Linked DNA regions of Homo sapiens. The protein of the gene in region 2 purifies or fractionates together with the protein of the main gene of each other region. This does not show direct contact. Each region holds a gene or a part of one and is shown on either strand. Other genes may lie near its edges. The genes, in order: ADPGK and SLC36A2.

What was found.
Region 1: the proteins of SLC36A2 (region 2) and ADPGK purify together in Homo sapiens (affinity purification with mass spectrometry; one large-scale study listed by BioGRID and IntAct). This does not show direct contact.

Annotation. Positions count from the first base shown.
Region 1 is NC_000015.10:72,756,136-72,759,953, reverse strand, and holds part of ADPGK (ADP-dependent glucokinase isoform 4 precursor), read left to right. Parts: intron 1-1,664; coding exon of another isoform or gene 1,665-1,889; intron 1,890-3,506; coding exon 3,507-3,703; intron 3,704-3,818. UniProt on the Homo sapiens protein: Catalyzes the phosphorylation of D-glucose to D-glucose 6-phosphate using ADP as the phosphate donor. GDP and CDP can replace ADP, but with reduced efficiency.
Region 2 is NC_000005.10:151,326,945-151,330,762, forward strand, and holds part of SLC36A2 (proton-coupled amino acid transporter 2), read right to left. Parts: intron 1-3,818. UniProt on the Homo sapiens protein: Electrogenic proton/amino acid symporter with a high selectivity for the small side chains amino acids glycine, alanine and proline, where both L- and D-enantiomers are transported.

The DNA.
Region 1 (3,818 bases), on a different chromosome or scaffold from region 2:
TTTTATTTTTCCTTGGGTGTGTGAATGGAAGTGTTTTGTATTTAACATCACTATATTGTTTCCCATCAGATGTTCTAATGTTAATAAATCCACATCCACTGCATCCCATCCCCTCTTCCCAGCAGATTTTATATGTTACGTAGATTAGGCATCTGGTTTCTGAGAGAATATTAAATACTTGGACATACTTTGATCCTGTGTATTTCCTGCTGTAATTTTCCCTCTGCTCAGAACTCAGACTCTTGAGTTTCTGATTCAACACATTGTTAATACACATTAAAGACTCAAGCATCTAAACAGACTAATTGGTACCTTAAAGCAGCACTTAATACTCTTCAGTGAACTACTTCCAAGTCAATTAAGAGAATCTTCTCTACTAGAGTAATTAACTTTAACATAAGATATGAACTATGTTATTTCTTGAGAATTATGCCTTTCTCCAGGTAGAAAAAAGAGTTGTAACATGTTCTGGTTCTCTTTCGGGTGCTTACTAGAATCAGTTGGGAATTAAAGAAGGATAGGGTCTGAAAATTAGGGACACAGCGTTGACGTAGGCAATTCATACTTAATGCTACACAAGTTTTTGAGTTTCTCAGCTTTAGTTTTCCCAAATGGGAAGTAAGAGTAATAGTTTTTACTGCCTGATCATTGTGGTAAGGATTAAGAGATTGGTTGGTGTGCGGAAACATTGTGAGCAGCTTGGATGAAAAGATGACCTGGCCGCACGTGGTGGCTCATGCCTGTAATCCCAGAACTTTGTGAGGCTGAAGCGGGTGGATCACAAGGTCAGGAGTTCAAGACCAGCCTGGCCAAGATGGTGAAACCCCGTCTCTACTAAAAATACAAAAATTAGCCAGGTGTGGAGGCGGGCGCCTATAATCCCAGCTACTCAGTAGGCTGAGGCAGAGAATTGCTTGAGCCTGGGAGGCGGAGGTTGCAGTGAACTGAGATTGCACCACTGCACTCCAGTCTGGGCAACAGAGCGAGACTCCGTCTCAAAAAATAATAATAATAAATAAATAAAAGAATGACCTGACTGTGGACTGGAAGGGTCTGGAATTGCTAAAGATGAGCCCCTGAGGTATTGCTGCCATGAGTTCCAGATTCGTGTCAGTTTTTTTGGCACCCACAGCAGGAACTGGGGACCTTTGTGATTCCTGGTTTGTCATTTTTCCTGGTGACTACAGAGTGGAGAGTCTTACGTCTTCAGCAAGACTTTGATGTTGTATTGGACAGCTGTGCCTCGTATGTAGTTAAGGAGACAGCACAGTTCACCGCACAAAGAGAGTGTCTCCATCCTTGGGTTTATAAGCTTCACACTTCAGTTTTTCTTTCCTATGCCTCTTCTGCATACAAAGCAGTGGACTTCCATTAAACTTTGTGAGGTGACATTTTCCTAGGTCCAAGGAGGGAGCCTAGTCTAGTGGCAGTAGCCCTGGGCTCAGCTCTCTCAACAGAAATCCATTCCCAGCTTGTCTCTGACCTCAATAGGGAAATTCCAAGGGATTTGTCCATTTTTTTTTCCACATTCTCTCTTACCAGATCTCCCCAGAGAAGCCCATTGTCAGGCTTGGGCTGGGAATCCAGTGAGTCACTACGCAGAGGTTTTGCTGACTTACTGGCTGAGGGCAGGATGATACATTGAGAAGAGATTGCTTACAGGAATGAATACAACACTTTGTGAGGAAAGAGGGGCGCTAACTACCATTACAGGCAGAATTAGATCCATTTGCATCTGCCCCCTGCATGGCCTCTCCAACGGGGCCATGAATATGCTGGAGGTGTTTGTGTCTAGCCTGGAGGAGTTTCAGCCAGACCTGGTGGTCCTTTCTGGATTGCACATGATGGAGGGACAAAGCAAGGAGCTCCAGAGGAAGAGACTCTTGGAGGTAATGGCACTGTTACAGAATTTCACAGATCTCAGCTGGTGGTTTTCTTCAGGTTCCAGCCTCTCTTGGCATCTGCTGCCTTGTTTCCTGTGGAAACAGCAAGCAGCTCTGCACGGTTCTTCTCATCCTTGCCTTGCAGAAGAGCCTGTTTATTTTTGCCTCTGTCACTTCCTGAAGAAATCAGTGTATTTTCAATACAGTGTGGCTCCTTTCTCCTAGGTTCAGTTAGGTCGTGTTTCCTAGCAGTGTCACTATTCAAGGGTTGAGTCCACGTCTTGCTCTCTGGAGAATGTCAATGTAATGTATTTTTCCCATCGTACAGAGTCTTTGTTGATTTGCAAAATGTTGGATTTGGGGTTCATACCCATATTTTTTGTTGTCATGGGCATTTAGGTCATCAGTCTGTTCTCTTATTTGCTTGTTCTTTTGTTAATTCATTCCCATGGCTATATGCCAGACACAGCATGATGCAGAAGGAATACGACAGAGGATGACACAGGCCCTGCCCTCAGCTCACAGTTTACTGCCAGAGATAGACACTTGGAAAAAGTAATTGCAGGCCGGGCATGGTGGCTCACGCCTGTAATCCCAGCACTTTGGGAGGCTAAGGCAGGCAGATCACCTGAGGTCAGGAGTTTAAGACCAGCCTGGCCAACATGGTGAAACTCCGTCTCTACTGAAAATACAAAAATTAGCCAGGCGTGGTGGCGGGTACCTGTAATCCCAGCTACTCGGGAGGCTGAGGCAGGAGAATCGCTTGAACCTGGGAGGCAGAGGTTGCAGTGAGCTGAGGTCGCGCCATTGCGCTCCAACCTGGGCAACAGAGTGAAACTCCATCTCAGAAGAAAAAAAAAAAAAAAAAAGGAAAAAAGAAAAAGGAATTGCAAAATCATGTGCCTCAGTCCTGTATTAGGGTACAGTGGTGGCCCCAGAAAGGAGGTAATCAAGTCTGCTTAGGGGTGGTAGGATTAGGAAAGGCTTCATGTTTAGGGAGGAACTAGCACTTGAACTTGGGTCTTTAAACAGTCATTCCTCTAAAGCAACTCACATAGAAGCAACTGGAGCAGCTAGATAGTCTGATCCTTTGGATCAGGTGCCCAGAAACCACTGATGGGCAGCAGGGAAGAGGAGATGCAGTGAGCTTGGCTGTTGGGAAGAAATTCAGCCTGCTTAAGTTCCAACTGAATGAAAGATGCTCAGGGCAATGCTGTGAGGAAGAATGTGCTTTAAACAATGACAGCCTATACTGTCTGCAGGGCGTGCGTGCTGCACACTGTATGCTGGTATTTGGAAGTCATGCTGCCATTCTGTACTGTCTCTCCTGTGTTTGAGAGCTCAAGTAGGGCTCTCCTGGGACTCAGGGGGAGCTAATTACCTTGAAAAAGGCATATAGCACCCATACTATGTTTCTGTTTCTTGGCTGGGTTTGGGTTTAGGTTTTTGGTTTGTTTCTTGCAGTGCCATGCTGACCTTAGGCCATTGTTGCTGGGGTCTCCTCAGCCAGAAACCAGCCTGCTTGGAGCCAAGGCTCCTGTGAGGTGCCTGAAAGTGCCCCCACAGCTAGGAGACCTAAAGCCTCTTCCTTTTCTTCCCATTGTGTTGACTGGGTTTTTCCAGGGGAGGAGTGGGGCCAGTTAAAAGCTCCCCATGCCAACCGATTCATCTTCTCTCACGACCTCTCCAACGGGGCCATGAATATGCTGGAGGTGTTTGTGTCTAGCCTGGAGGAGTTTCAGCCAGACCTGGTGGTCCTCTCTGGATTGCACATGATGGAGGGACAAAGCAAGGAGCTCCAGAGGAAGAGACTCTTGGAGGTAATGGCACTGTTACAGAATTTCACAGATCTCAGCTGGTGGTTTTCTTCAGGTTCCAGCCTCTCTTGGCATCTGCTGCCTTGTCTTAGGTCCTGGCCTCCCAGGGACATATCTT
Region 2 (3,818 bases):
TGGGACTATAGGCATGTGCTGCCATGCCCGGCTGATTTTTGTATTTTTTTTGTAGAAACAGAGTTTTGCCATGTTGCTCACACTGGTCTTGAACTCTTGGGCTCAAGCGATCCTCCCACATCGGCCTCCCAAAGTGCTGGGATTACAGGCGAGAGACATCACATGTGGCTGAATTTTGCAAATTTTGTAGAGAATTACACAAGCACCATAATGGCACAGTTAAGGGCTTAGTAAATGTTGGCGGTTGTTATTTTTTAATACTGTGAAGACCGTAACTCTATGAAGTCGGTACCTCCATAATTCTTGTTTTACAGATGAGGAAAACAAGGCTCTGAAAATGAGATAACTGATCCCAAGTTGCAGAACCAGAAAGTGTCAGATTCAGGTTGTAGACCAGGGCTGTTATCCAAAGTCCAAGTACCTGCTTCTACTCCTATAGCAATGGGTATATTTGTTACTAAGGAATTTAGCATCTTTTCCCTTGTACTGTTGAATTCTTTTCTGTCGTACATGCAAACTTCCAGCCCTGAAACTCCCTAACCCTCTCTCTATTCCAGGCATTTGGAAGATGCTTGAGGGCAGTGTCATGTTGGGTCCTCCCCATGCCTTTCCACTTTCTTCTGGATTAGGTCTCGTTGCAGCAGGTGCTCAGGAGGATGTTTGATGATTATACAATAATTGTATGGAGAGCAGACAATCCAACCTGAGCTCTTGCACCCTGTAACACAATTTTGCTGCATATATTCTCAAGGCCAAAAATGATCTTTTCACAAGGCCTGCTCAGACTGGGTAGCTGGCTTCCTTTCTTTCTCTCTCTCTCTCTCTCCACAATCAGTCAGTCAAAGAGATAAATGGCTGTTGACGTACAGTGGGAAGGTCCCTGGATGGAGAGTCAGACGTACTAGGTTTTATTCACATCTGCACAGTTCCTAGCTGGTGATCTAACTGAAGTCACCTTCTCTCTCTGGGGCTCTCCCTCTTCTGTAAAATTGGAGACTGGGCTAGCAGAGTTCTTCTTAAGATAATTTCAACTAATACTAAGAATCACAAGCACATAATAGGCATTCAAGAAATACTTACTGAACAAATATTGTCATCAGTTTAGAGGTGGAGAATTAGAGTTCAGAGAGTAGCCCTGGCCAAAGCAAGATTCCAGCACATTCTGCCTCCAAAGTTACCTGCTCAACTGCTGCACTCTGCTTTTGTCCATGACTATTCCAAATTCTAAAAACAAAGTGCTTCCAGTTCCATCTAGATGAAGTAAGCACACTTCACAATATCTCTTTCACTAATACAACTAAAAATCGTGGATGAAATACATAAAGCAATTATGCACAGGTCCTGAAGAGTAAATAGTAGCAGGCAGAATGGGGAAGGAAATCAAAAAGAAAAAATGACTGTCATGGTGGTGAGTTTCCTGATTTTCTTCTTCCCATACATCCTAGTTTTTAACCTCAAGGGACACCCAAATCTTAGAACTATGCGGTGCATACAGACAGAAAATAACACCAAGAGAAACTTCTTTTTGGACAGATGACTTAGAATAGGGTCCCCTGTGGGATGAAGAGCGTGGAGAGAATCTCTATTTTTCTGTTTCTTTGTTTTATCTCCAGGCCATGACCTCAAGGCAAGTCCTAGTCACTAAGCAGCATTCTGGTGTATCAGTGGCTGTAGTGGTCACACAGGCACCTAAAAATCTGAGATAGAAATCCTTATCTCTACACAGAAGTACTAGGAAAATTGGCTTTAGGAGTCTGAAGAGTGTGGGAAATCAGTACTGGCTACCTAATTTATGGGCCCCAGTACAAAATGAAAATGCAGGGTTCCTTGGTGAAAGATGGTTCCAGCAGAGTGTTAAACTAAGTGTGAGATTCTTCTGAAGGTTGGACCCTATGTGGCTGCATGATTTGCCTGCTCACGAAACTGGTCCAGGAAAGAATCACTATTGTGCTTTTTCTTTCTCTTTTCACTCATTGCTCAACCCCAGAGGCAGACTTGGTCACAGGAAGTACATGACAGTGTAGGAGGCTAAAAGCCTAGATTTCTAGCCAGAGGATGGGAAAAAGAACCCACTGCGAGCTGGCGAGTGTGCGGGAAAACACAGAGAAGAGGAAACTGGAAAAAGCAATCTCCTAAAATCTGTGAATAATATCCTGGGCCCAGCCCTGAGCTGTACATATGTGGAACTGATGGGAAGCATCAAAGCAAAGGCTTTGAAAACTGAACTACTGTGTAGAGTCCTGTCTGCCAATTGGCACTGTGTAGCACATGAGCAGGGTAGAGCCAAATATCACTTCATGGGCTTTGAAAACTAACTGGATATTGGAACCATGGCCCACAGAAGGTGAGCAAGGACTTATGAGCTGAATCTAACTAGGTAGATGGTTTGCTAAAACCAAAAATCAGCATTCTGAAGAGTCTCCTAAAATAATATTCAAAATGCATAGGATACAGTTTAAAATTATTCAGCCTACAAAGAACCAGAAAAATCTCATCAACTTTCAAGAGAAAAGACAACAGATGCCAACCTTAAGATGACTCAAATGTTGGCAATATTAGGCAAAGACTTTAAAGCAGGTAATATAACCGTACTCCAAAAAGTAAGGGAGAACGCTATTAAAATAAATGGACAGATACAAGTTCTTAGCAAAGTAGACACAATGTAAAAGAAACAAATGGAAATATTATAACTGGAAAATAAGAAAAATTTAAATAACTGACTGTAGGGGCTTGATAGCGGAATGTAGATAACAGAAAACAAACTCAGTAAATTTGAGGATAAACAGGAATGACAAAATCTGAACAACAAAGAGCAAAGAGATTTTTTTAAAAAAATGAATAGAGCCTCAGAAACCTGTGGGATATACAGTTGACTCTTGAACAACATGGGTTTGAACCGCGCAGGCCCTCAAATAGGTGGATATTTTCAACCAAATGCACATCAAAACTGCAGTATTCATGGGCTGCAAAACCTGTATGTATGGAGGGCTGACTTTTCATATACTCAGGTTCTGCAGGGCCACCTGCAGGACTTGAGTAGGCACAGATTGGTTATACACTGGGTGTGTGTGTTTAGGGGGGTGGGGGAGCGGGGTCCTGGAACCAATGTCCTATATATGCTAAGCGATGACTATATATCAAAAAGTCTAGCATTCAGGTTATTGGGATCTCCGATGGAGAAGAAAAAGAGATTGGTGAAGAAAAAACCTTTGAAAAAAATAATGGCTGAAATTAGGTAAATTAGGTAAAAGACAAACTTTTACAGATTCAAGAAATCTCGTAGAGGGCAAACTCAAAGAAACTATATTAAATATAATACAGTATAACTGCTGATTAAAGAAGATTTTAAAAAGTTATGAAAGCAACCAGAGAAAAACACATAGGAGAACAAGGATTCAAACAATTGCAGATTTCTCATCAGAAACCACTGAGGGCAAAAAGAAAGGAAGTCATATTTTCAAAATGATGAAAAAAATTGTCCACCTAGAATTCCATATTGTGCAAAAATATCCTCTAGGAATAAAGGCAAAATAAAGACAATCTCAGATCAAGAAAATGAAGATAATTTGTCACTAGTAGACCTGCTTTAAAAGAAATGTTAATGAAGGTTCTTCATGCTGAAGGGAAATGATGCCAGAAGGAAATGGGATTTCAAGAATAAAGAAAGAGCGACAGAAATGGTAAATATCTGAGTAGATATAATAGCCTATTTTTTCCCTAGTAAGTTTATTACAAGGACTATGCATGACTATTGAAAGCAAAGATGATAACATTGTTGGTGTTTCAGTGTGTTTAGATACATAAGGCAATACAACATA